2 linked regions of the Homo sapiens genome follow. The protein of the gene in region 1 interacts with the protein of each later gene in a pairwise test. Each region holds a gene or a part of one and is shown on either strand. Other genes may lie near its edges.

Region 1 (3,293 bases):
CACACCTATAATCCCAGCACTTTGGGAGACTGAAGCAGGTGGATCACCTGAGGCCAGGAGTTAGAGACCAGCCTGACCAATATGGTGAAACCCCGACTCTATTAAAAATACAAAAATTAGCTGGGCGTGGTGGCATGTGACTGTAGTCCCAGCTACTCAGGAGGCTGAGACGGGAGAATTGCATGAACCCAGGAGGCGGAGGTTGCAGTGAGCTGAGATTATGCAAGTGCACTCCAGCCTGGGTGACAGAGTGAGACTCTGTCTCAAAAAAAAAAAAATGTAGATATGGTTAAGTTTCCATTCTCATGCCAACTCTAATCAGTTACTAGGGGCTGCCTGGACCACTGTGCTGAGAAGATGCAGAGGTTGTTTCCAAGCTCAGAGGTCAAGAGTATTATGATTCTCAGTTTCTTCCATGGAAAAGGAATGGCCACCCCAGCCATGTGTGCACTGCCATTCCTGACTTGATGACATATGTCCCTTTACCTAATAGTACCCACTGCAGTCTGTGAGTAAGGATATGCTTACTGATTGTGGATAAATTTCACTGAATGTGGCCAGCTTGGAAGACAGAGTTTCACATTGTTTTTGGCTCTCCTGCCAATTTTTTGAAGTAAGTGAGATGTAAAAGCAGCTTTTCTGATGCATTATCCATCCCGACGGACAGCAGGTGTCTAAAAAGCAGAAAGAGTGTGATAGCAGCAACAGTTGGGATGAAAGTGACTACTCAGCAATCTTTTGCTAACAATATTCCCCCAGAGCTAATCTCAGCACCTTCATGGACTTCTATGATCTTTGCAATCTTTCTTTTGCATCCCCTGGAAACACCATACCTGTCCTTACTTAGTAAAAAGACTTTAACATTCAACAACATTACTTCTTAGCAATCTGGGAGGTCTGTCTTAATAGGGCTGATTTTATTACCCCAATTTCTGAACAATTGCAGTCCACCCTGACACTTTACCTAACATCTCTTGGGCCCATCTCCTCCACTCCCTAAAGCACCCCTCACTGCACATCCTCCACTCCTCCAGCACTGGCCCCCTCCGTCCCTCTCCAATTTCCTACAAGCAGAAAATGTTGTGTACTGTTTTGCAGAAACTGAGCTCTCTCCTTTTCCCTCCTCTCCACCTCAAAATTTCTCTTCTCTGTTCTTCTTTTCCTGACTATCCATAAGAAATAAATATCCCTCTTTCTTCAACATCCTACATCCCAATGTGCACTTCTGATCCCAGGCCACCTCTCTCCATTGCTTTGTTCCATCAGTCCTACCTTCATCACTCAAAAATCATTCCCTCTCCACTAGCTCCCTCTCTTCTCTCTACATATGCTCATGTCCCCACCCTGCTACTCCCTTGAGCTACTGTCCTATGGCAACTTAAAGGAATAAAAAGAAATCCCTGCTGGGCACAATGGCTCACTTCTGTAATCCCAGCACTTTGGGAGGCCGAGGCGGGGTGGATCACCTGAAGTCAGGAGTTTAAGACCAGCCTGGTCAACATGGTGAAACCCCACCTCTACTAAAAATACCAAAAAATACCCAGGCACCATGGCGCATGCCTATAATCCCAGTTACTCGGGAGGCTGAGGCAAAAGGATAGCTTGAATCCAGGAGGCAGAGGTTGCAGTGAGCCCAGATCACACCACTGCACTCCAGCCTGGGAGTGCACTTCAGTCTCACAGAGCGAGACTCCGCCTCAAAAAAAAAAAAAAAGAAATCTGTATGGCCAAATGGAAGAGGGTGAGGAGATAAGTGGCACACTGAAAGGTAGGCAGGAGTGATGGAAGCCATGTTAAGGATTTTTATTTTTATATTATGAGGAAGAGAAAGTCAGTGTAGGGTTTTACATAGAGGAATTTTGTTCACTAGCTATATCCCAAGTGCCTGGGCACAGTGCTAGAACATATTATATGTTATGTATTCCATAACTGTTTATGTAATCAATTAACTGGAATGCTGTAGATTGGGTGACACGATCAGATTTTTGTTTGTAAAAGATTACCCTGGCTCCAATATGAAGAATGGACTGCAGGGAGAGGAGTGAGTAGGAAAAACATTTAGAAAGCTGTTGCAGATATCCTTGCAAAAGATGAGGATGGGCAAAAATCCATATGGATATATAGACTTGGTGATGGAAAGTGAAGGGAATTCCTCTCTGAAAGAGTGGAAGATGAGGACATCTGCTGAAAGTGAGGGAGAAGGAGTTACTATGGAGAGCAAGCTGACCATTGCAAAGGTTGCCAGGCAGTGCTGAGAGACTAGAGTCTCAGTGGCACTGAGCAGAATGATTCCACAATTTGTCACACCTTGATGCTGACCATGGGCAGTTGGGTTCATCCAGAGTTCAAATTTTGCCCATCAGGTACACTAGAAGGATAATGGAACAAAGAAGTGAGTGAGCCAGGTGCGGTGGCTCACGACTGTAATCTCAGCACTTTGGGAGGCTGAGGCAGGAGGATCGCTTGAGTCCAGGAGTTCGATACCGGCCAGGGAAACATAGTGAGACCTTGTCTCTATTTAAAAAAATAAGTGAGTAGTTGAAGTGATGGGCTCCAAACCCATGTTAGGTAGGGAGAGAAGTGTGGACAGGAGAAGCTGATGGGAAGAGAGAAAAAGGGGAATCAGTTGATTGGAGGCCTGGACTGATGGGAAGGGAGAAAAAGGGGAGTCAGCAGATTGGAGGCCTTGATGAGATCAAAAAAGTGTGGGGAAAACCTGCAGGAGTGGTGGGCAGCTGTGATCAGAGTGGAAGTCTGAAACCATCCTTTCGCCGGAAGAGCAATTTGGGAGGTAGAGGTCTAACATGCTGCTAAGAGCAGCCCTGGCATGGAACTGATGGTCACAGAGGGTAAGGTTAAGGAAATGAGGGCAAGGGGTGTCTGCACATAATCTTGCTGTCTTATGCCTGGGGAGATCACCCAGATGACCCCCAAGCTAGACAGAGCCTAAACCTGATCATAGCCCAAAAACACCCCAGTCCCCTTAGGCGTGGCACCTTGCCTAGACCCTCAGCCTGTTTTGATACAGCCTTGCCTCTTTTATGTGTCCCTTTCCCCATCTCCACTTACTGGCTGGGGTCCTGCTTTCAAAATGAATGGACACCCCATCCTAGTTCCCTACACCACAACTCCCAGCTCCACCTCACTGTGAGTGCTGAGCGCCTCACTGCCTTGCCCCACCACCAGGTTGCACTCCATGTCAGCCAGTAAGTCTTACCCTTTGGGGAGATCTCAGCTATAACGAAAATTAATTAAAAATGAGGTCCCTGTCTTTAGAAAGATGTGCAAACCGC
Region 2 (3,827 bases), on another chromosome or scaffold:
CCCTCTGTTTGCTTGTAGTAGCACCCGATCAGTATGTCTTGTAATGGCACATCCATCCAGATATGCCTCTCTTGTGTATGAAGTTTTCTTTGCTTTCAGAATATGAAATGAGTTGTGTCTACTCTGCCAGCCAAAGGTTTGCCTCATTGGGCTCTGAGATAATAGTAGATCCAACAGCATGCTACTATTAAATACAGCAAGAAACTGCATTAAGTAATGTTAAATATTAGGAAGAAAGTAATACTGTGATTTAAAAAAAACTATATTATTAATCAGAAGACAGCTTGCTCTTACTAAAAGGAGCTCTCATTTACTTTATTTGATTTTATTTTTCTTGACAAAAAGCAACAGTTTTAGGGATAGCTTAGAAAATGGGTTCTGGCTTGCTATCAGGGTAAATCTAACACCTTACAAGAGGACTGAGTGTCACTTTCTCTCTGGGGGAATGATCCAGCAGCTTATCTAGTTGACAATCAAAACACGGCTGATAAAGGTGCAATCATTTCTGACATGTATTTTTCACTGATTTTGAAGCTAGTGATTGGTTGTGTCTTCTTGGCTCAAAAAGAAGCATATTACGGCACAAAAAGCCCAGCCCAGACAGCACATGCAGCATTTTGTCTGAAATACTTCTAGAGTCAAACGTGCCTGCTGTACATAGCGATGACTTGTCATCATAGGGAAGTATTTCCATCGTAGAGTGTTCAGAAGGAGTGACTGTATAGGTGGAGAGAAGCTTAGTGACTCCGTTGAAATTTTAAAATGTGGATGACCACCCCTTTCTCCCCCTTATTTTTCTTTTATCTTTCCATGTTGCCTTGATCAGGTCATAACTATGCATGAACATTTTTTATCAGGAATGGCCGATGTGTATGTGATTTGTAATCACAAGTAATGATTCATCAGGAAATGTCAATCCTGTTGGAAAGATTGCACCTTTACTTGCAGAAGTGACCCCCACCTGTGTCCTGACCTCTCCATTTACAGGCTCTCTCACCCATTTCCCCCACCTCCTTTAATTTTTGCTTTACTGTCATAAAGTAGGACTAAGATTGGTCTAAGCATTGCATGTTCTTTTGTGATGGTAAATCCAAAGGAAGGCCTATAAGTATTAACATTTGAAATAACTGCTAATTCAGGAAAATGGAAGAAAAAAAATTATTTGAAACACAGAACCCATTTCATGGCCTGCCTGATATCTGTGAAATCAGGGCTGGAGCTTTACTTAGGATTCACATGGCCTCCTAGGAACCATGGGACAAATGGGAAACAGGTTATCGGGGGATTCATGAAGTCAGTGAGAGTAATTGCTTCTTTTTTGCGGGTGAACTGAATGTATTTCTTCACCAAATCTTGATGTTAACAATTAAAAAGAAGAAATGACATGCAAGTAGGTCTTAGCAGAAAAATGCAGGCTGGGCATGAGTCATGTTGTTACCCTCCCACATGCTCCTACAATCCACAGAGATGCCTGTCTGCAGGTTCTTGAAGTTATTGTTAGTATTTGGTATCTCAAATTTTTCGTCACTGTTCACATGCCACTTTCTCTGTGCACAGTGGTATCCTCATTTGCTTTTTAACCTACACTGAGGAGTCTTTGTCAGGTTGCACTGATTTTCCAATTCTGCAGTAATGAGTAAGCTCACGGCATGGGGAAGAAGACAGTCAGTCCAATGAAGTTCTCTAAATTATTTTAACATTGCCTTTGAAGGCCTTGACTCATCCTTAGCTATTTCAATGAAGAAATTCCTACCATGAATTTAAAACCCTAAAAATTCTGTTTCAAATTCTTTGGGCATTGGGGTACTCAGATATCCCATTGTGGAAGAATTTTAAGAATAAATAGAAGTTTCTGTTGAGAACCATGAGCAACATGTTTCTTACAATGAGAATTGCTATGCATTTTAAAATTGCAAATATATATGAAAATTGAAGACAAGAGGAAATTGTATTTCTAACTTGATTCTGATCACTCACAGAGGTGGCATATTATTATAGTTGGGACATCCTTTGCACCCTTCATAAAAAAGGCCAGCTGACTGCTCAGCATCACCTGCCAAGGCCACTAGATTTGTGTTTACAGGGGTATCTCTGTGATGCTTGTCACATCACTCTTGACCACCTCTGTTAATAAATTCCGACAGTGCAGTGGCGATCGGAGTGTGAACTTATGTTCCCAGCATATGGAAAGCTATCTTAGGTTTTAAGGTAGTAGAAATTGCCCAGGAGTTTGACAGCAACTTTGTTTCCCGGGTCTAAAATCGTATCCCACTGAGGTGTATGCAGTGGAGCATAATACATGCAAATACATGCAAAACTCCTTTTGTTTCACCTAAGATTCACTTTCTATCTTACTTTCCCTTCCTGCCTAGTGTGACTTTTGCCCCCAAGAGTGCCTGGACAGCATTCTAGTTTCTACAAAATGGTCCTCTGTGTAGGTGAATGTGTCCCAAACCTGCTATCACTTTCTTGTTTCAGTGTGACTGTCTTGTTAGAGGTGAAGTTTATCCAGGGTAACTTGCTCACTAACTATTCCTTTTTATGGCCTGGGGTTAAAGGGCGCATGGCTCACACTGGTGAAAATAAGGAAGGCCTGGTCTTATCTTGTATTAATAATACTGGCTGCATTCCACCAGCCAGAGATTTCTATCTGCGAAGACCTATGAAACACTGAAGAGAAATGTAGGCAGAAGGAAATGGCCACATATCACAAGTTCTATTATATATTCTTTTGTAAATACATATTGTATATTACTTGGATGTTTTCTTATATCATTTACTGTCTTTTTGAGTTAATGTCAGTTTTTACTCTCTCAACTTACTATGTAACATTGTAAATAACATAATGTCCTTTATTATTTATATTTAAGCATCTAACATATAGAGTTGTTTTCATATAAGTTTAAGATAAATGTCAAAAATATATGTTCTTTTGTTTTTCTTTGCTTTAAAATTATGTATCTTTTCCTTTTCTTTTTTTTAAGAATAATTTATTGTTCAGGAGAAAGAATGTATATGTAACTGAAACTATCTGAAGAATGCACATTGAAGGCCGTGAGGTACTGATAAACTAAAGAATTTATTATTCAAAATACTAAGCAATAAGTAATTGTGATTTATTTAAAGTTTTGTCCATTTTCCATGAAAGACATACTGCAATAAAAATGCTACTCTGTGGAGACCTGGGAGTGTTGCTCAGCAGACTACAGCTTCAGTCTGTTAGACCAGCACCTTTCATCTCATTCCCATAGTTATGCTAATTTAGGATTGTGTTCCATGGACCCCATGATCACCTTGTCTATACGTTGCTTCTTGTCTGTCCATTGCTTTTGCCACACCACCTGTTCTCAAATCATCTCCTCCCTACCAATGCTGTTTATCACTTTCTTCCTTGTTGAAGAGGCCACACAACCAGACAGTACTATGCTTCCTTTTTCCTCCATACACAATAACAGAGAGAGAATATTCTAGGGCATGACTGCCTGGATCCTGGCTGTTGCTATCTTTTGTAGTGGCAGTAAGAAACTCCTTCAGACTAATGAAAATGTCAACGTGCCATTCAATCACGAAAGGTAACGAAAAATGCTCTCATGGTTCAAATAGTCCAATGGCCCATAGTGGCCTAAAAGGCAGCCAGTTGACACCTGGCCATGCTAAGCTTCCTTATACCATCCGCTAATGACTTTCCATTGGGCCCACAATTTACGGATTCATAATTTTAAAAGAGGAGAAGGCCAAGTTAGGTTCATTCCCCTTATTCTGTCAATAAAACAAATCAAACTCATGTCTATCTAACTGCTCAGGGAGGAGCCTTTGCATGAGAAAAT

Evidence for each region.
Region 2: the proteins of CD72 (region 1) and NRG1 interact in binary tests that used the Homo sapiens proteins (3 or more experiments, as listed by UniProt).

Annotation. Positions count from the first base shown.
Region 1 is NC_000009.12:35,612,320-35,615,612, forward strand, and holds part of CD72 (B-cell differentiation antigen CD72), read right to left. Parts: intron 675-3,293; coding exon 529-674; intron 1-528. UniProt on the Homo sapiens protein: Co-receptor of B cell receptor (BCR) that plays both positive and negative roles on B-cell functions. Recognizes the Sm/ribonucleoprotein (RNP) self-antigen ligand, and coligation of CD72 and BCR inhibits BCR signaling.
Region 2 is NC_000008.11:32,764,779-32,768,605, forward strand, and holds part of NRG1 (pro-neuregulin-1, membrane-bound isoform isoform HRG-alpha proprotein), read left to right. Parts: 3' UTR 1-3,827. UniProt on the Homo sapiens protein: Direct ligand for ERBB3 and ERBB4 tyrosine kinase receptors. Concomitantly recruits ERBB1 and ERBB2 coreceptors, resulting in ligand-stimulated tyrosine phosphorylation and activation of the ERBB receptors.